Regions from separate parts of the Homo sapiens genome. Here regions 2, 3, 4 and 5 are each reported to be linked to region 1. Evidence: microRNA targets listed by miRTarBase, many of them from high-throughput screens and not tested one by one. Region 1 holds a microRNA gene; each other region holds the end of a gene's coding sequence.

Region 1 (4,180 bases):
AAGGAGACATTCTTATATGGCTCATCCCTCTCTAATTTACAGGTTTTCCCTCAGAATCCACTGACAAAGCAGATGGGGAGATGAGGATATTGATCGCATACTGGCGTGATTAACCCAGGTTCTACACAGATTCGACTGTGAAGCATGAGATTTCACAAAATAACTAGGCCAAAGGAGGCTGCAGGTACAGGACAGAACTTTAGACTTAAGAGATCCATGTTGAGTTGTGGCTGGAGGACCAGACGATTCCAGAACCCTTTAGACTCTGTTTGTCAAACCGATCATCTTTGCCCCATGTTGTATGGATCAAATGAAATGGCATGTGATATGGTTTGGCTGAGTCCCCATCCAGATCTCGGCTTCAATTGTATCGCACAGAATTCCCACGTGCTGTGGGAGGGACCCAGGGAAAGGTAATTGAATCATGGGGGTCAGTCTTTCCCCTGCTATTCTCATGATAGTGAATAAGTCTCACGAGATCTGATGGGTTTATCAGGGGTTTCCACTTTGGCTTTTTCCTCATTTTCTATTGCTGATGCCACGTAAGAAGTGCCTTTCATCTCCCGCCATGATTCTGAGGTCTCCCTAGCCATGTGGAACTGTAAGTCCAATTAAACCTCTTTTTCTTCCCAGTCTCGGGTATGTCTTTGTCAGCAGCATGAAAACACAGACTAATACAGTGTGCATGAGCGTGATCTGTATAACAGTAGAGCCCTCTATTAATGCCTGTTCAATTAGAGCCTTTGCCAAAAAAATACACACAAAAAGGAATGTCAGTGTCTCAATTATTTCAGGGAGTCTGATTCTCTTCTTGACAGTAGATGGTGCCAGGAGGGAAGAAATGAGAGGTGGTAAGAGATGCAGGGCAGGCAGGGGTGCTCTTCTTCTTCTTTGGACAGAGGCATCTCATGACCTTGAAGCCTTTGTAGTGTATCATAAATGTGTGGGCTGCATTCAGGTGAGGCTTTCCAGCAAGGGACTCAGAATTATTTCGCAAAGTTTTGCTCATTTGGCTCCCGTTTGGAACAATTACAATGGTCCCAAAATATAATGCGAGCCAGTGAATGCCCATCTCTGGAAATAACATCAGACACATTTAATTTAAAAGTGTCTTCAATGCCTAGGACAGTGTCAGGCACACGGTAGTCTCTACACATATTTATTTCATAAGTGAATGGTTGAATGGTTGAATTTGTTTCTGATGGTTGATCTAACCCTGTCTATTTGATTAAACATGTCCTACTTCATTTAACCAAGCCTGGGGAGGGAAGCTTTAGTCTGGCACAAACGAAACCTACTCCTGACTTTAGACACCTCTCAGAGACAGAATGGGTTCCAAACCAGAGCACCTGGCTGGGCCAACTGTCCTAGAAACTGCATGGGTCCCAGATTTGCTATGGCAGCTCACACATGCTTCATAAACAATTTTCTGATGGTAATTCACTGATGCAAGAGGAAGAAAGGCCTAGTGTACGAATTCAGTAATCAGCCTAGTAATTGATTGAAATCAGTAGAAATCAAACATATTCTAGAATTTCTGAAACGTCAGTGAAACCATGTGTAAGTTTATTAGAAAGTTGGATTTTTTAACGACGAAAAGAGAAGGACCCACACACCTTAATTTTGTACCTATAAGCTTGCGGTCTGTCTGCATAACATAGATTTAGCCCAGTCTTAGCCTTCTGCGTCTAACACTTTCCTAACTATTCATTTTAAGTCTATAAGCATGGGTTAAATGATTACCTCGTGCCTGGCCTTGTGTTGGGGGCTCTGAGGAACTCTGCAATCTTTTTATTTTCATTTTTTGAGACAGGATCTTGCTCTGTCACACAGGCTGGAGTGCAGTGGTACCATCACAGCTCACTACAGCCTCAACCTCGTGGGCTCAATTGATCCTCCCACCTCAGCCTCTCAAGTAGCTGAGATTACAGGCACATGCCACCATGCCTGGCTAATTTTTGTAGTTTTTGTAGAGACACGGTTTCACCATGCTGCCCAGGCTGGACTTGAACTCCTGAGCTCAAGTGATCCGCCTGCCTTGGCCTCCCAAAGTGCTGGGATTTCAGGCGTGAGCCACCGTGCCTGGTCTGCAATCTTTTTATTGACTTGGGAAAACAAGAAAATTAATCACCAGCTAAGGTATGTAACAACAGCATGTGAGAGGCAGGGTTCAGCTAACCATATTGGTTATGAGTGCAAAAGAGCCAGACTTTATTCAGTAAGTACACAAGATTGAGAAGACTGATATCAGATGAACCTTCTTGCTCAAAGCAAACGATGCCAAGACATTTATCGAGGGAAGGATTGCCTAGCAGTAGCTATTTAGTGTGATAATGGCGTTTGATAGTTTAGACACAAACACCATTGTCACACTCCACAGCTCTGCTAAGGAAACTCTGTAGCCACGAAGGTGTTAACTTCACCTCCACATTCCACCATTGTCACTGATAATAGGGGAACCTTGTCAGCTCCACATATTGTGACCTAAGCAGAGAAAAGAAGCATCACGGGTACAAGCATCTTGAGCAATGGGAAGAGCTGAACACTCTCAATGAAAGGCTTCTGTGTTCTGGAACAGTAGAGTAGTAGAGGGGTCCACTGCCTGTGTTCCACTGCCACCCAGCAAACCCCTTCTGCAAAAACTTCCTGTGAAAATGGACAGGAACTCTGTTTGCAACAATTTTCTAAAATGGCTGAGAGAGAAAGAATCTCTAGAGGGAATAGATTTCTGGAAATAAATACTTATTGGAAGACTACATTATAAATGAGAATAATCTGGCCGAATGAATGGATACTCTCCAACTCTCACCTCTTCACCTACTTCCCAATCCATCATCAGTAAATGTGATCAATTCTGCAGTCTAGGAAAATTAAAATTATTTTATATGGGGATACAGCAGTTAGATGTGTTGTGATCTACTCTCCGTGGCATCTATTGGATATAAAGGCATCTGGTCTTGCTCAAATGTTCAATCTTCTTGACCACAGTCATTTTCCACCATGGCGGTGGGTGGGAGATGAGGGGAGAGAAGAAAGAGAGGAAGATGGAGAGAGAGGAAACGAGTCCATTTTTAGTTCATGATACTCATTTTCTAGCAAAAAGGGAGCTCCAAATAAATCCCTACAGGATTTACTTGGCTTTCCTGTTAAAGATGGTTTATAATTGTTATGTGAACTCCTGCCCACCATGGAGAATGAGAGGAAATAAAGCATTTTACCTACTCCTTCTTTTCCTGCAAATGCTGAAAAGGGAAAGGGTTGGGAGCCAGTTATTTTTTCCCCAGGATAACTGAGTTGTTAACATCTGACCAGAGTCTTGCTTTAGCCCTAAAACCGGCCCATCTTTAACAGCTGTAAATGAACCCTTCCGTATTTTTCAGAAAAAAAAAAAAAAAATTGCGCCTTATTCTCATGTAGATCCTGAAATCACCCTCTTCAAGCTGGACTTGCAGTGATTATCCCCCTGCGAAAGCTGAAAGTCGTTCTGCTCCCATGGGTTGGAGTGTTGAAGTTGCCTCTTTTTTTCTTTCCCTTTTTCACTTTGTGGATTCGTTATCTTCCCCTAAGTGACTGATTTCCTTTGGTTCCTGTCTGTGGCCCTGGCTTTCTTTCATGAAATGTGGTCATTTGCAAGGCAGCAGGCCGTGCCAGTGCTACACATACTCTCTTAGGTGGGACTCGCCTCCTGGGCAGTTTTCCATGACTCAGAGAGAATGACTACGAACCCTAGAACTGCTCTAGGTGGCCCCAGTCACTGCCACAAACCCCTAGCACTCTGGGTGTGGCCAGCAGTGGACACAGGCATGTGGTGGCCCATCTTGTCCTTCCCTTTCCCTACAGCTCCTCCTAACACAGTAGCCAGGCTTGTCCTGCTTAGTCTTTGCTGAGGGACCTAGAACAGAAATCGCCACCTCCTGGTCATACCAGGGCTATCGCTGACCATCCACAAGAGGCTCTAGAAGTCTCTTAGCTCTGCTGGGAAGAAACAGTGAGAGGTGAACAATTCACTGATTAAAAGGGTCCCCGGAGGATGCGCTTGGAGCGCTCTATCCTGGGCAAGGGCTTGGACCCATTTCACTTCTCAGGGCTCCATAGCAGTATCTGAGCATCCTCCACTTCTCCATGGGGGCTCTGTTGGCTTTTGGCTTTGAATAATCTGCAAAATACAGAAAAGGGAAGG
Region 2 (4,180 bases), not on the chromosome of region 1:
TGCAAATAAAAGAAATACTCTCAAACGTCTGAGTCCATATAAATACCCATTTCAATACCAAATTTGGTAAAAGTCACAATAATTTGCAATGGAAGCACTGAATATGAACTAGACATATCCCATAAATAGTAAAGCTTGGAGCTTTGTATCCAAAGTGCTAAATTGCCATTTTGGAAGTTGAAGAAAAACTTAAATTGCTTTTCTAGCCAGTTAATTGTTTAAATATTAGAATTTTCAATGTAAGCCATGATTACTGAGATTTATATTGGAGAAACACTCAGCAAGAAAAATATTGGCAGCATTTCCAGTGACACTGCTGTTGAAAAACCTCAATCTCGATGCATATAAAAATACTGTCACCTTTTGCTATCAGAAAGTGCTCTTTTCTTCTTTAATGGAAGTCCATAGTTATATGCATTAAACAGAAATTAAAAAGAAATGAGTAAAGAAGAAAAGAGAGGGAAGAGAGAAAAGGCAGGGCAGGAGGAGAGGAGAGAACTGGCCCACCTTCTTCCCAGTATTCTTTTTTTTTTTTTGAGACGGAGTCTCGCTCTGTCGCCCAGGCTGGAGTGCAGGGGCGCAATCTCGGCTCCCTGCAAGCTCCGCCTCCCGGGTTCACGCCATTCTCCTGCCTCAGCCTCGCGAGTAGCTGGGACCACAGGCGCCACCACGCCCGGCTAATTTTTTGTATTTTTAGTAGATACTGGGTTTCACCGTGTTCGAAAGGATGGTCTTGATCTGCTGACCTCGTGATCCGCCCGCCTCGGCCTCCCAAAGTGCTGGGATTACAGGCGTGAGCCACCGTGCCCGGCCCTTCCCAGTATTCAATGTGGCATATGGGGCAGCACCACCTCTGGCAAACTTTAAACCAGAGAGTGCATGTTTTAGCAGGCCACTGAATTAAAATTTGTGGCTCCTGGATTTCAAAGGCGGTTAATGTAGTAATTTGCTGGGAGTTATCAAAGGCAGAGAAAATATTGCTCCATGGTAATATCCTAGCTATGGAAAATAATTAGCACTTTCAGGCAGCAAGGATTAGAAAAGCAAATTTTCTCTGAATTCTCTGCCAAATTCAGCTAAAATTTCAGGATACAGCACAGGAATTCCAAGGCAGACAACCGCACGAGGTTCTAAGGTTTCACATTCTCAAAATTCATCATTCTAGAATGTTCTAGGGTGATATCATTGACCTTTGCGGGCAACCCTTTTCTGCACAGTCAGACCAGTACTGGTAGTTGAGAGTTGTGGGTAAACTTGGCTCTCATAAAAAAGAAAGGCATTGTATTTCAAGTCTTTACAGTAGATGTTTTTGTGGGACTTATCAAAGGAGAGAAGGAACCTCTTTGAGTTGGTGAGCCATCAACAAATCTGAGTGCCATTTGTGTGTTTCACTGGCCATTCTGAACAAGTAGAAAGGAAACTAGGATGGAAGTTAGGAAATTATGTTCCATCCTGGCTCTTTCACTAAAACCCAATTTATGGGTATATAAGATGCAATTTCCCCTATGTGAAAGACAATTCAAAAATTGCTCCATATCATACGTGTCCATACCACAAATGGAAAGCCTAGTACTAAAGTTACAAAATAATGATGTCACCTCTAGTGGTGAAATAAGGAAACAAAATATAACAGCAAAAATAAGAGTTTCCCGTCATAATGGTAGTTTCCTTAACAAAAATAACCACAGGGCAACTGATCAGAAGGAAAGTATTACTCTAAAATTTTAGATTTAAATTTGTTACTACTATAATAATGCTGCATACCAAAACTGATTGACATCTAAACATTTCTGTGTAGTGCTGAGATTTTCATATCTATTTTTTTTTCAGGGTAAGACTGACTTTTTTTTGCTAATATTGCGCCCATGATATCTTATTGGATTCTAATATATATAAGGATATCATATTTACATCAACAAGATAATATTTTTCTTTTTATACTTCCAGATCATTGTCTCTATATAACAAAAAGTATTTAATATTTTAATTTTCAAAAATGTCTCTGTAAATAAGATACATCTTACACAGACTGTATGTCTTACAGAATAGCAATTATATTCAATATGTTTATTTCTTTGTGTTACAATTTCCTTGTTTGCCTTATAGAGATGATTCAGGACCCTACCAAATCCACTAGGCTGTTGCAAATATCAAGATCATCTATGCAATAGTCATTTGAGAAAAATAAAGCATTATGCAAAATATTGCTATGCTGATACCAACTATATGAGCAACTAGGGATTAAGCCAGATCCCCGTGGGGAACAGAATATTCAACTTCCTCCTTGCAGTGAGGTGATAAAACCTGTATGGACCAGCTAGGTAACCCTAGGGGGAAAGAAATTGTTTAAAGAGACCTTTCTAAGGCTGGTAGGAAGTTGAATTTTCTTACCAATAGAAGCAGCTGAACTATTTGTTTTTTACACATTAAATTTGAAGTTGGTCTCTGATTTCCACCCATTGCCCAAGAGTTTAAGAAAGAGAGATGACCACAGCTACTGATGATTAACAGATCAAATGTTTTTGTCTGTGGTAAACACAAACATTCCTGAATTTCCTCTCAGAAGCTATTGTTGCATAGAAATGTATTATGATTTAGTCCTCCACAAATCAAAGTAATTTTTTTCTTTAGAAATACTCCCAGATTGGCTGAGTGCAGTGGCTCACACTTGTAATCCCAGCACTTTGGGAGGCTGAGGCAGGCAGATCACTTGAGGTCTGGAGATCAAGACCAGCCTGGCCAACATGGTAAAACCGTGTCTCTACTAAAAATACAAAAATTAGCCGGGTGTGGTGGCACACACTTGTAATCCCAGCTACTGGGGAGGCTGAGGCATGAGAATCACTTGAACCCAGGAGGTGGAAGCTGCAGTGAGCCGAGATCCTGCCACTGCATTCTAGCCTGGGCTACAGAGTGAGATTCCGTCTCAAAAAAAAAAAAAAAAAAAAAAAGAAAGAAAGAAAAAGAAGAAATACCCCCAGATACATGCTTCATCCTTTAACACTACCCAAGTATCTGAATGATTCTCTCAGATGTATTTTAAATAAAATTCTGTACACATAATCATCTCATCTAATATTTTAGTCTCCCACATAAAAATCTCAGCAAAAAGGCCAGCTTTTACTGAGATTACCTGTTTTAGATGTGTGTTAGAGTGGAAAATGCAAAAGTAGAGAAAAAAGGTTGTAAGGAACTGCTTTAAAATGGAAACAATCTTTTCCACTGGTCAATAGGATTATGGCTAATCTAATCTTGATGTTGAGCCCTTGACCCATATGCTCTACAAGTGTGTCTCTCTGTTTCAAAAGTGTGTATTACTTTTATAACACGGGTGTGGGGGAGTCAGTTGCATAGAAAGAGTCTCAGGAATGCTAGATCAATATAACACCTCAGGTGCCACTGAAATGGTCTCAGACGTTTAGGAATTAGAAGGCTCACAAAAGCTATTTTCACAGCTAGCTCAACCTGCTTAAACAATGTTAAATGAGTAATAGTCTTTTTTTTTTTTCCTTAGAGATAAATAGCATTTTAGAAAAAAAAATAAGGAAAAGCATATTCCCTTTTGGGGGCAACTGATTTGGCAAAATTTAACGAGGTTTTTAAAACTCAACAGTCATGGAGCACCATTAAATATTCACACAAAAAGACCCAGGCAGCTTAGAGATTAGTATTTCCTTGGTCACAAGACACCTAATTGACTTGCAACAAGACAAAATATTCAGTGCATCTGGTTGGGGCCAACATGGATGATGACGTGTTTCTCATAAGCCCTTTTCATTGTTTTCTCAATTTGCTTCAGAAAAACTTGCGGGATTCGTCCACATAAAGTGTGCACAGTCTCCAAAAACTTCAGCTGAAGGGGGTAATACATGGATTGAAAGAGATTGTCTTGAAAGGGAAACTGAAAGATGACAAAAAAAAAGTTTATTTAGTAACGGAAATGCCATTTTAAATGCAGATCATTTTTACTAAGAAATGACACAGGAATTACGATAAGCCCACAGGCACAGGTTTGGACAAGTGAAAAGACCTTTGAGGATCTAACTTAAAATCCTGTCTCAGCTGTGCAACCCCAGGTAATCATTTAAACTCTCCGAACCTCAGTTTCTTTACCTCTTTAAAAAGAAAAAGGCTAGGCATGGTGGCTTACACCTGTAACCCCAGCACTTTGAGAGGCCGA
Region 3 (4,180 bases), not on the chromosome of region 1:
CCCGGATTCACGCCATTCTCCTGCCTCAGCCTCCCTAGTAGCTCTACCCGCCAGCACACCCAGCTAATTTTTTGTATTTTTAGTAGAGACGGGTTTCACTGTGTTAGCCTGGATGGTCTCGATCTCCTGACCTCATGATCCGTCTGCCTCGGCCTCCCAAAGTGCTGGGATTACAGGCGTGAGCCACCGCACCCGGCCAATTCTTTTTAAACCATCAGAATATTTCTTTATTCTACATATTTCTCTTTTCCATTTTTTATTTCCTCCAGCCTATTTTCTCTGTGCTGTTTTATGTTTTGTGGTTTCTAGTATAAGGCCTTTAAACTCCACCAATCTTATTTTTCATCTCTTAATCTCTTTTGAACTTTTTTTTTTTAAAGAGATCATGTCTGCTGTCTTTTTTGAGCAGGTGGAGAATTTCTGTCACATTAACCTTTTTGAGGGAGTGGGCAATCTGTGATCGTTCTTTTCTAAATAATGCTTATTTAAACTTCGGTCTACTGAAGAATAACAAACAGGAAGAGGTTAGAGGAATGAGCTTGAAGTTGGGTTGTTAATATTGGAACCCTCTCACCAAACCCATTCTTCTTCTTCTTTTTTTTTTTTTTTTGAGATGGAGTTTCGCTCTTTTTGCCCAGGCTGAAGTGCAGTGGCACGATCTCAGCTCACCGCATCCTCTGCCTCCCAGGTTCAAGCGATTCTCCTGCCTCAGCCTCCCAAGTAACTGGGATTACAGGCATGCGCCACCATGCCCGGCTAATTTTGTATTTTTTAGTAGAGACAGGGTTTCTCCATGTTGGCCAGGCTGGTCTCAAACTCCCGACCTCAGGTGATCTGCCCGCCTCGGCCTCCCAAAGTGCTGGGATTACAGGCGTGAGCCACCGCACCTGGCCAAAAATGCATTATTTCTTTTGCCCCTTGGAACACATCTCCCTTACTTTCTTAGTATTAAAAGGCGATTGTGCCCTATGGCAAAGCTTTTAAGTCAGTGTATTTCAAATTATTGGAAGTGAAATCGATTAAGTGGTTTCATCCAATATTAAAAACTGTTAACAAGTAGGAAACACCAGAATTCACTTTGCATAGTAAGTATTCTTTCCTGAAATTTGTCTCAGTACAGAATACAGATGTGTACAGAGGTAAGATGTAAAATACGTTTTTAAAATGTATGCTGTAGTCAAAAAGTTTAAAATGCTTCATCCATAGGCAAGCACATAGATGACAGAAAGAGCCTTACAGCAAGGTTTGTCCTCAAGCTCCATCTCCTGTGTAATTTTATCAAAACGATATCTACAGACATGCAACATGTCTTACTCTTACCTCCTTCTTCTAATTAAAGAATAGGGACATTCTCTTTCCTGCTATTGATTGGCTGTGGTACCTCAATTTTGGTCCACATATTACCATATGTCTAAACAAGTATGTTTTAATGTTTGTTTAGGGAGGTTTATTTCTGTTACTAAAATTTATTGGGCTTTGTGCGTGGGTTTATTTTTACTTTAAAACATATTTTAAGACAAAGTTTTATTTTAAGAGTGTACTGGATGACAGCTTGGTTGGTCCATGGGTCATTTCTGTCCATGCCAGAAGACATTTCTTTCTACCTAGATCACTTTCATAAAGAAATAACTGCTATGACACTGTAATACATTTACGTACAGATGCTTATATTTAATCTTAAAAGGTAGTCCTATATAGTTCTATCAGAAACCGTAAGAGCTCTTTCAGACCACTTTTATTAACTCAGGTATTACGAAAGGAACCATTGAAGAATATGAAAGCTCAAATAAGATTAAAAAATGCTTTAATACTGCTGAAGTCTTTCAATTCTAGAGCAGGCATAGAATATATAGAATGTTTACCTTATGACCAGATACAACCTCCCAAGAAAAACTGGATCCTGCAGGGCAGCTGGTCTTCACAGTTCCTGCTGGGACTACAGTTGCAGAAGTCATTCCATCACTTTTCTCTTTTTAAGGGAGTTAAGTACAGGTAAAGGAACTCTTCTAGCAAAGATCTTAATAATCTCTTGATTATCGATGTCCGTGGAGGCTTTTTAGTCCTTCCTTTGCTTCTGCATTCTTGACCCTTGGCTTCTTTCACTCACTCTCTCCTAATTCTCCTGTCTTTCTGAATGGGCCATTCCAGTTTTCAATAGGTGACTTCTATTTCTTCCTGTGTTGGTGTTGCCTATGGTTCTGTTGTGTGCATTTCTGATATATATTAACACTCTGGGAAGTCTTATTGACAGATTCCACCATTACTTAAACATTGTCAATTCTGGCCTAGATCGCTATGTTAAACTCTGGTCCCTATCTCCAACTTTATGGGCTTTTGTTTTTAGCTATACCATAGCTGTCTCAAATTAAACTTGTTAAACTGAATGCATCATTTTCATTACTACCACCATCCTCTAATTCTCTGCCCCTCTAAAAGCTGTCTCTTCCTGCTGTATTTTCTGACTTTGTGAATGGCACGACTGTCTAGCAATTTAGGTCAAAACCATGACTAATATTAGATACTTTCCTCTCCATCAAATCTTTTTCAATCCCGTTACCCTACTGCTACTGACTAGGCCTGGATAATGTCAATGCTTATATGATAAAGGCTGGATACCTTAACCTGGATTTCAAGCTTGTGGGCAAGAACAAATGAAACTATGAAAAAATGGGCTGTATAAAGGGTATTAAGTGCTGCTCTCTGTTGAACTGTTTGATGAAACTGGCTTTAATGATCCAGAAGCAGCCTTACATTTGAATGCATTCTATTCTTTCAAAACTGCTACAAACCAGTTTTCATGTTTATTACCACTTGCTGCTGCTGGAAAAAAGTTAGGAGCAACTATGTTTTACTCCTTTGATCTTTGAATAACAGCAGCAGCACAAATCCCAGGATTCTCAAAGCAGTTCCAACCACAACAAACCAAAAACTAAACTACAGCGAAATGGGAAACAGGTGTGTCCGGTTTAATAAAAAGGGAAAGGGTCATCAGGTGGCCACAGCCTTTCCTTGTCAGTCATATCCCCAACCTCCAGATCCTTTATACTCTCATAAGTTTGAATACAGTCAAGGTTAGTTGGGTCAAAAACTGATGTTGATTATGATTAAAAAGATACAAAACTCAGCACCTCCTTCATTAAAAATAAAGGTTGAGAAACTTGATAAGAAAAAAACTAAAATATTCTTATAGCTGCCTGGGGGAGATCTTAATCCTTCCACATACAGATATCCTTATATCCACAGGAGGCCATGTGGACTAAAACCAAACTGAGTCCATTACTCATTCCCTCTCCGGCTCTTCTTGTGGCTCTTCTTAGACCTGAAATGGCAACACATATAAATAATTATATTAAGAAGCAGCCAGGCACGGTGGCTCACGCCTGTAATCCCAGCACTTTGGGATGCCAAGGTAGGCAGATCACCTGAGGTCAGGAATTCGAGACCAGCCTGGCCAACATGGTGAAACCCTGTCTCTACTAAAAGTACAAAAATTAGCCGAGCATGGCGGCGGGCACCTGTAATCCCAGCTACTCAGGAGGCTGGGACAGGAGAATTGCTTGAACCCGGGAGGTGGAGGTTGCTGTGAGCCGAGATTGGGCCATTGCACTCCAGCCTCAATGACAGAGTGAGACTCCATCTCAAAAAAAAAAAAGGAGTCCTGAGAAAGACCTTGGTATGCTGACATTGATGGGGATGGAGCTGACACTCAATATTCATTAAACTGCTTGGTATTTTTTTGACTCAGAGCAACACTCTTGAGTCAGGCATTACTATCCAAATTTTACCATTGAGGAAATGACCTCTTAGAGGTTAAGAGTACACCAAACAGGCCCGGCGCGGTGGCTCATGCCTGTAATCCCAGCACTTTGGGAGACCGAGGTGGGCGGATCACAAGGTCAGATTGAGACCATCCTGGCTAAAATGGTGAAACCCCGTCTCTACTAAAAATATAAAAAATTAGCCAAGGGTGGTGGCGGGCACCTGTATTCCCAGCTACTCGAGAAGCTGAGGCAGGAGAATGGCGTGAGCCCAGGAGGTGGAGCTTGCAGTGAGCCGAGATTGCGCCACTGCACTCCAGCCTGGGAGACAGAGCGAGACTCCGTCTCAAAAAAAAAAAAAAAAAAAAAAAAAAAAGAGTGCACCCAACGGTATATGGCACATGGGGGTTTCTAATGAAATC
Region 4 (4,180 bases), not on the chromosome of region 1:
CCCCTGACGCAAGCTTTAAAGGCAGTCGACATTAAGAAGCCTCTGGTTTCTGTCTACTCCAACGTCCACGCGCATAGATACAGGCATCCCGGGCACATCCACAAGCTGCTGGCCCAGCAGCTGGTCTCCCCAGTGAAGTGGGAGCAGACGATGCATGCCATATACGAAAGGAAAAAGGGCAGGGGGTTCCCCCAAACTTTCGAAGTAGGCCCTGGCAGGCAGCTGGGAGCCATCCTGAAGAGCTGTAACATGCAGGCCTGGAAGTCCTACAGCGCCGTGGATGTGCTGCAGACCCTCGAACATGTGGACCTGGACCCTCAGGAGCCCCCGAGATGACTGCAGGGGGCTCAAATGCGATGACCCCCTCTGTCCTCCTGAGGAGAGGCTGTAGGCTGTGCCTGTCGCCCCCTACCTTCCTAATGGCTCCTCCTCTGAGGAGTGAAAGGGATTTGTTTGCAACGTGCTTTGAAGGCCACATAAAAAGCCCTAAAAATGAGTATTTCTTTACATGACCCAGTCCATTTCTCCCCCTTGGAAAAACGTTTGGACGTTGGGAAGAATGATGCCACAGGGCTGGTGTGTGGGGAAGCTAGAATCCTGGCCCCGCCTCTGCCAGCCCTGCACCATAGGCAGGTGTGCCATCTCAGCGGGAAGGGGAGGACTGGCTGCTGCAGCCTGTCCTGCTCTGTGAGTGCTGAGAACATGCTGGTGTGGCCTCAATTTCAGCCAGTGCCAGGGGAGCCCCTCCACCACCCCCAGCCTGCCCCCCAGGGCTCCTTTGTCACAAATCTGAAAGGTTTTAGAACCCAGTTGGCCTTGGCAGTTTTGTTCACCTCCTCACTTGACAGCTGGGAGACAGAGGCCCACATTTATGGACATACCCAAGAGATATGTATTGCCTGCTGTGTGCTAGAGAGTGAGTGCGCTCTGTTCTGGTAGAAAGGTCCTTGAGTGAGGTGCGGGGTGTGGGGAGTGCCAGGTAGGGAGGGCGACTGAGGCCCTGGTCCTAGGGGTGGAACCATGGAGGAACACCCTGGTCACCCACTGGGACTGCGGGTCTGCGGGGCGCCAGAGGGAGCACAGCACATACCTGCCTCGGAGCTGACCCCTGGCTCCATGCCCCGTCCTCAGAGCAGCTCCTGCGCCAATATTAAGTATGAGACATTCCAAGCTGCTTGGGTGGTTGTTCATTATACAGAGATAGTGGGAAAATATTATTGGGAATGAACTCTCTGATTGTCTTAAAATGTTACCATTGTGTAGACACGTCAAGTCCTGGATAGGGTTCCTCATTTTCACATTTTTAGTTCTCTGGTGTTTCTCAGCAGGGCCCAGCTGGCCTTTGGGCAGAACCCTCCTTCCTTATATGGGAATGTCCCACTCTTGGGCAGCTGCCCTGGTGCCGGGCCATTACACACCAGCAGCACTTCCAGGCATTGTGACCCCAGACACCCTGCATGTCTCGAAGCCCTGGCTGAAAACACAAAAGCCGATGCGATGTGATTCCCACTGCAGCCTGCATGCGCGTCCCTGGGAGTGCGACAGTTCTTTGGAAAGAACTATGTCTTAAATCTGTATTGCACAGAGAACTTGATTATTTTAAGTACTGAGCATGTTTGAAGCTCCTTCCCTGAAAGCTTCAAGCAATGGCAGCCTCAGGAGACCCAGGCTCTCCACGTCCAGGTTCTCTTGCAGCGCTGCAGGAAGGATGGCCACGTTCAGCTCTGAGGAACAAAATCCCAAATAAGGGAGGGGTCTGCCTCTCCAGGAGGACAGCAGTAAGGGACAGCAGGCCTTACCACTTGCTCTCTCTGCACTACCCTTGTCCTCATGGCCTGGGGCAAGATCCAAGCCCATGAAGGGGTAAGAGAAATCAGCTGGGCATGGCAGTGCGCACCTGTAATCCCAGCTACTTGAGAGGCTGAGGCAGGAGAATCGCTTGAACCTGGGAGGCGGAGGTTGCAGTGAGCTGAGATCACACCACTGCACTCCAGCCTGGGTGACAGAGCGAGACTCCATTGTGAAAAAAAAGTGTTCTCCATGGAACAACATTCTGTCCAGATCAGGGCTCAGCCTGTCTTTGCTGAGCACATCCTGGCCTGGCCTGATGCCTTTACATTTCACTCACAAGCCCGCCCACCTCTGGCCAACAAGAGTGGTCTCCAGCCAAGCACGGTGGCTCACACATGCAATTGCAGCACTTTGGGAGGCTGAGGCGGGTGGATTACCTGAAGTCAGGAGTTCAAGACCAGCCTGGCCAACATGGTGAAACTACATCTCTACTAAAAATACAAAAATTGGCCAGGCATGGTGGCTCAGGCCTGCAACCCCAGCACTTTGGGAGGCCGAGGTGGGCGGATCACCTGAGGCCAGGAGTCAAGACCAGCCTGGCCAACATGGCGAAACCCACCTCTACTAAACATACAAAATTAGCCAGGCTTGGTGGCACATGCCTGTGATCCCAGCTACTCAGGAGGCTGAGGCAGGAGAATCACTTGAACCAGGAGGTGGAGGTTGCAGTGATCCAAGATCAAGCCACTGGACTCCAACCTGGGCAACCATCACAAAACTCCCATCTCAAAATAAAAATACAAACATTAGCTGGGCGTGATGGTGCATGCCTGTAGTCTCAGCTACTCGGAAGGCTGTCAGGAGAATCGCTTGAACCCACGAGGCAGAGGTTGCAGTGAGCCGAGATCGCGCCAGTGCACTCCAGCCCGGCCGACTCCATCTCAAAAACAAAAAACAAAAACAAACAAAAAAAAAACGGTGTGTGAAGTCAGGCCTCAAAGCTGCAAAGGGCTGTGTGCAGTGGTGTGTGTGCCTGCAGACCCAGCTATTTGGGAGGCTGAGGTGGGAGGACTGCTTGAGCCCAGGAGTTGGTGGCCGACCTGGGCAACACAGGAAAGCCAAGTCTCTTAATTAAAAAAAAAAAAAAAAAAAAAAAAAAAAAAAAAAAAAGGCTGCAAAGGGCCAGACCTTGGGGAGAGAAGACATAAGGAGGCAGGAAAGCCTATTGGAGGTCCCCTTTGGTTTGGAGGCCAGGATGGAGGGAGGAGTGAGCAGGATGCAGGGTCTGCCCAGCCAGCCTGGGAGGTATGAACAGCTGCATCTCCCAGCTCTGGGGATGAGGGGGGTTGGGGGCTGGAGAATGGTGGCCGGCCCAGCCCAGCTTTGACATTTGGGGTGGAGGGCAGACACAGAGCCGATGTCCTGGGAGGGAGGCCTGGTGGGGTCTACAAATGGCACGAGGCAAGGCCCAGGGCAGGTACCAAGCCTACAAAGGTACAAAGCAGGGTCCTGGCCCTCCTGCCCCTGGTGCCCCTTGTCCTGCTCCCCAATCCCCACCACACCTCTCCCTGTGAGCGGAGCCACGGCTGCATCCCTGTGGTGAGGAGTCTGTGCAGGGAGAGGCAGGCATCCCCTAAAGAGGAACTGAAAGCCCAAAGGAAATAACCCCCAACAGTGGATTTTAGGCCACAGACCGGGACAAGGGAGAAGGCAAACCGTCGGGCCAAACCAAGGCAGCATTTGCGGTCCCCTTTTGCAGGGAAGGATCTGATTAGGAGCACACAGGCCCTGCCCTCCCCACCAACACAGTGTGCCTCCCTGGGGCGAGAGGAAGCCCGTGCTGGTGCTGCCAACCCCCCAGAGAGGACCAGAGACTGCTGGAAACCAACATTTTATTGAGCACTCCTGCTCCTCGGAATCTATTCCAGTAGATTCTTTGCCGAGGGCATCACATATCACACAGGGGTGTGACCAGCACTCCCCCTGCTACCTGCCGTGTGGGCAGGGGCAGGAGTGAATGGCTCTTCCTGGGCACAGGCCACAGTTAACCGGTGACAATTGCAGAGCCATAGGAATTCATCTTTTAGAAAAAACGAAAACTGGAATAAAAAAAAAACAAAAAACCTGAGTATAAAACCTCAGCAGTGTTCCAGCACTATCTCGGGGTTTAAATATAAAAAGGCATCATGAGAAAACAGTTAAAAAGATAACAGCAGCAGGCCGCCACCTCCAGGGCAGTGGTCATGGGGGTGGGGCCAGCCCCGCCCTGAGCCGCCGGGGCCTCACTTGAGCAGCAGGTGCAGGCCCCCGCTGAGCAGCGGCAGCAGCAGCGCCAGCAGCAGCAGCAGCGCCAGCAGCACCTGTTCGCAGGACACCTGTGGGAGCAAAG
Region 5 (4,180 bases), not on the chromosome of region 1:
CCACCACGTCTGGCTAATTTTTGTATTTTTTAGTAGAGACGGGGTTTTACCGTGTTGTCAAGGCTGGTCTCAAATTCCTGACCTCAGGTGATCTATCTGCTTCGCCCCCCCAAAGTGCTGGGATTACAGGTGTGAGCCACCGCATCCAGCCAAGAATGGCCTCTTTAATGTCTGTGAGCTCCCCAAGGGCAGAGACACCCTCTAGTGCCTGGCACCGCCTCCAGGGCTGAGGAGGTGCTCACCAAGTCTGTGATGCAGGAATGAAGCCGTATCCCAAGTAGGGGGCTGCGTCTGCCCAGTTTACCAGTGCGTTCTTGTCACCCAGCACGGGCTGGCCAGCGAGTATCGACACAGGGTTTGCTGAGCGGAGGAATGAGCCCTGCTTTGTGGTGGAGGGGAGCAGGTGGCAGGAAAGCCGGACCCCACTGCCCCTCCCTGACCCTCTCTGCTCTTTTATTGCAGGCAGAGTGTCTCTGGCACAGTTTGCCTTGGCCTTCGTGACGGACACGTGCGTGGCGGGTGCGCTGCTGTGCGGGGCTGGGCTGCTCTTCCATGGGATGCTGCTGCTGCGGGGCCAGACCACATGGGAGTGGGCTCGGGGCCAGCACTCCTATGACCTGGGTCCCTGCCACAACCTGCAGGCAGCCCTGGGGCCCCGCTGGGCCCTCGTCTGGCTCTGGCCCTTCCTGGCCTCCCCATTGCCTGGGGATGGGATCACCTTCCAGACCACAGCAGATGTGGGACACACAGCCTCCTGACTCCAGGAAGAGCCAGAGCTGTGCAGGGAGGAAGGGGTGAGAGGGGGGCCCCCACACCTAGACTCAGTAAGGAAGTCGGGTTGGACCTTAACATCTGCATTGGACAACTCCACCCCTTCCTTGGCCTTGCCCCTGCCCGCCTACACTCCTACGTGTCCAGGGCTTGGGCCGTGACTTAGGCAGAGGAGTGCAGAGGAGGGTCTGGCAGGGGCTGCTCAGGCCGCCTAGCTGCCCCTTTGCCAGGTTAATAAAGCACTGACTTGTTTCTCAGCCTCCCTCCATCTTTGCATAGTTTCTGGCCCCTCACTTTGTTGCTGGGGCTGTTTCTGGGACCCTCTGTAGGGCCTGGAAACTGCAGGATGCCTGAGGGTCTCAGGGGCTGGGGCTCTACCTCCCCTGGCCTGGGTGAGTTGGGGGTGGGGCACCAGCACGCCAAGGCAGTGTCCTACTGATCCAGGCTATGAGAATCCAAACATTCTTTCCCAGGTTTGGCATTTTATAGTTAGAAGCATTTCTGCAACAGCAGTTTCATGGAACCTCTCTTAGCTAACCTGGTCCATGGGGCAGCAGTTACGCTCTAAGAATCCATGTGGTAAGATCATGGTGCGGCAAATGGAGGCAGGGTCCAACCCAGGTCTTTGTGCTTTTGCCTTTACCCTTGCACAGCTGGAGGAAATGAGTAGGAAAGAAATCAAGGTAAAGAAATGCGCTGGGGCTGTTTGGGCATCTGTGGAGGGTGGTGCTGACAGGGCTAGGCCTGCACCTCTCTGGCCTCCTCAAGAGCTGCTTGTTAAATGTTTCCGTGTAAATAGAATGAATAGAGACCGCCATTTCCACATGGCAGGCCTAAACACATGTGTTCGTCTCAGTTTTCTCTTAGGATCTCTCTAAGATGATAGTAAAGAAAATCAAAAATAATACAAAGGGAAAGAAAACAGGAGGGAAGACAGTAGAACACAGAGCCTGACCACATTTTCTTTTTTCTCTCTGTTGCCGGGGCTGGAGTGCAGTGGCACGATCTCGGTTCACTGTAACCTCCACCTCCCGGGTTCAAGTGATTCGGCCTCCCGAGTTGCTGGGATTACAGACACCCGCCACTATGCCCGGCTGATTTTTTTTTTTTTCTTTTTTGAGACGGAGTTTTGCTCTTGTTGCTCAGGCAGGAGTGCAATGGCGTGATCTCGGCTCACTGCAACCTCCGCCTCCTGGGTTCAAGCGATTCTCCTGCCTCAGCCTCCCGAGTAGCTGGGATTACAGGTGCCCGCCACCATTCCTGGCTAATTTTTGTATTTTTAGTAGAGACGGGGGTTTCACCATGTTGGCCAGGCAGGTCTCAAACTCGTGACCTTGTGATCCGCCCGCCTTGGCCTCCCGAAGTGCTGGAATTACAGGTGTGAGCCATTGCGCCTGGCCATGCCCAGCTAATTTTTTTGTATTTTTAGTATAGACAGGGTTTCACCATGTTGGCCAGGCTGAACTTGAATTCCTGGCACCTGCCTCCACCTCCGTCTCCCAAAGTGCTAGGATTACAGGCGTGAGCTACCGTGCCTGGCTGACAATTTTTTATTATTTTATTTTATTTTATTTTATTTTATTTTATTTGAGACAGACTCTTGTTCTGTTGCCAGGCTGGAGTGCAGTGGCACGATCTCGGCTCACTGCAAGCTCCGCCTTCTGGGTTCACGCCATTCTCCTGCCTCAGCCTCTCAAGTAGCTGGGACTACAGGTGCCTGCCACCACGCCAAGCTAATTTTTTGTATTTTTAGTAGAGACGAGGTTTCACCGTGTTAGCCAGGATGGTCTCGATCTCCTGACCTTGTGATCCACCTGCCTCGGCCTCCCAAAGTGCTGGGATTACAGGTGTGAGCCACCACTCCTGGCCGGCCAGGATGGTCTTGATCTACTGACCTCGTGATCTGCCCGCCTTGGCCTCCCAAAGTGCTGGGATTACAGGTGTGAGCCACCGTGCCCGGCCGCCTGGCTGACATTTTCAAAGATGGAAAGTGGATGGAGAATTAAGAGCTGAAATTATGTGTTCCCAAAAGGTGGGGCCAAAAGGCAAGTGGAATTACCTGCCAGAGCCCCGGAGGGGCTCAGGAACTCCACCAGGACCATGGAGGGTGAGGTGAGGCTTCGGCCAACAATGGGGACCGATGGAAAGTCTATGTAAGGATCAGTGGGGTGCCGCTCCCCCACATCCCACCCACACCCCACCCACATCATGCAGCCAGCAGCTACACCTCTGGGTGGGGTGGTGTGACGTGAGGATTATTTGAAGGATAAATGGAACCAGAGAAGCTTCGGGTCTTAGGCGTACTGGGGAGGGGTGGGTGAGAGGCTAGACCAAAAAATGGGGTTAAGTGAAAGTCCATAGATACTGCTGGGGGGCCTCCCATGAAAGAACATGCTTGACCCCCAAGAACCTTCAGAGAAACCCACCCTCTGACAGGCTCTGCCCATGCCCACAAAGATCTGAGCTGCTTGGCTGGTTGTTTTTGTAACAGGCATGCTCTGTTGCTATTTTTTAATGACAGGAGGAACTTGGTGTACCTGGCACTTTGGGCTGCACAGACGCATTAGCAGACTCACCTTGTCCTGTTTCATCCCTCGCCCTCCACAATTTCTTATTTTCTTTCTTTCTCTTTTTATTTTTTGAGACAGAGTTTCACTCTTGTTACCCAGGCTGGAGTGCAATGATGCGATCTTGGTTCACCGAAACCTCCGCCTCCCGGGTTCAAGCGATTCTCCTGCTGCAGCCTCTCGGTAGCTGGGATTACAGGCATGTGCCACCATGCCCGGCTAATTGTTTTTGTATTTTTAGTAGAGACGGGGTTTCTCCATGTTGGTCAGGCTGGTCTGGAACTCCTGACCTCAGGTGATCCACCTGCCTCGGCCTCCCAAAGTGCCGGGATTACAGGTATGAGCCACTGCGCCCAGCCCACAATATCTTATTTTCATGTTTTTTTGTGTGTTTTGTTTTATTTTTCGAGATGGAGTCTCTCTGTTGCCCAAGCTGGAGTGCAATGGCGCGATCTTGGCTCACTTCCTGGGTTCAAGCGATTCTCCTGCCTTAGCCTCCCAAGTAACTGGGATTGCAGGCACCCACCATCATGCCCTGCTAAATTTTGTACTTTTGTAGAGATGGAGTTTCACCATGTTGGTCAGGCTGGTCTTGAACTGCTGACCTCAGGTGATCTGCCCACCTTGGCCTCCCAAAGTGCTGGGATTACAGGTGTGAGCCACCATGCCTGGACTCGTTGTTGTTGTTGTTTTTAATTAGTGAGGAGCTACAAGAACACATTTATAAAAATTAAGAGGAAACAGCCCCACTGCATTTGAGAAGGTTACCATTTCCTTCGAAGTTCCTGCTGTTGCCCCTTCCTGGTGGGGGAGACACTGTCCTGTTTCAGTCATTCCGTTGC

What was found. The annotated mature microRNA hsa-miR-122-3p reads AACGCCAUUAUCACACUAAAUA and lies in region 1 at 2,320-2,341, opposite strand. An mRNA with a match to its seed (bases 2 to 7 or 8) in the 3' UTR can be bound and repressed. Matches are read on the target gene's strand: a 7mer-m8 pairs with bases 2 to 8, a 7mer-A1 pairs with bases 2 to 7 and ends in A, and an 8mer does both.
Region 2: miRTarBase lists GXYLT2 as a target of hsa-miR-122-3p. The part of its 3' UTR that is shown has no 7-base or 8-base seed match.
Region 3: miRTarBase lists PRPF38A as a target of hsa-miR-122-3p. Seed matches in the 3' UTR shown: 7mer-m8 at 10-16.
Region 4: the mRNA of MCAT is a reported target of hsa-miR-122-3p. The part of its 3' UTR that is shown has no 7-base or 8-base seed match.
Region 5: the mRNA of ZDHHC24 is a reported target of hsa-miR-122-3p. Seed matches in the 3' UTR shown: 7mer-m8 at 1,929-1,935.

Annotation. Positions count from the first base shown.
Region 1 is chr18:58,449,285-58,453,464 of GRCh38, reverse strand. It overlaps MIR122 (microRNA 122), which reads right to left and starts at 2,391; the gene lies at 2,307-2,391. MIR122HG (MIR122 host gene) reads right to left here. Exons shown (of 3, transcript NR_170245.1): 2 at 3,925-4,156; 3 at 2,184-2,646. MIR3591 (microRNA 3591) reads left to right here and starts at 2,313; the gene lies at 2,313-2,385.
Region 2 is chr3:72,974,698-72,978,877 of GRCh38, reverse strand. GXYLT2 (glucoside xylosyltransferase 2) reads right to left here. Exons shown (of 7, transcript NM_001080393.2): 7 at 1,963-3,901. The coding sequence ends at 3,719. Among named protein-coding and RNA genes, the nearest start is that of PPP4R2, 20 kb to the left of the region's middle. RefSeq lists an enhancer at 1,407-1,476.
Region 3 is chr1:52,415,787-52,419,966 of GRCh38, reverse strand. PRPF38A (pre-mRNA processing factor 38A) reads right to left here. Exons shown (of 10, transcript NM_032864.4): 10 at 1-3,319. The coding sequence ends at 3,277. Among named protein-coding and RNA genes, the nearest start is that of PRPF38A, 13 kb to the right of the region's middle. RefSeq lists a silencer at 2,816-3,110.
Region 4 is chr22:43,129,199-43,133,378 of GRCh38, reverse strand. MCAT (malonyl-CoA-acyl carrier protein transacylase) reads left to right here. Exons shown (of 4, transcript NM_173467.5): 4 at 1-1,170. The coding sequence ends at 336. It overlaps BIK (BCL2 interacting killer), which reads right to left. Exons shown (of 5, transcript NM_001197.5): 5 at 3,667-4,166. The coding sequence ends at 4,074. Among named protein-coding and RNA genes, the nearest start is that of MCAT, 12 kb to the left of the region's middle. RefSeq lists an enhancer at 3,932-4,180.
Region 5 is chr11:66,536,107-66,540,286 of GRCh38, reverse strand. It overlaps ZDHHC24 (zDHHC palmitoyltransferase 24), which reads left to right. Exons shown (of 3, transcript NM_207340.3): 3 at 463-4,180. The coding sequence ends at 758. Among named protein-coding and RNA genes, the nearest start is that of ZDHHC24, 7.9 kb to the left of the region's middle. RefSeq lists an enhancer at 1-687.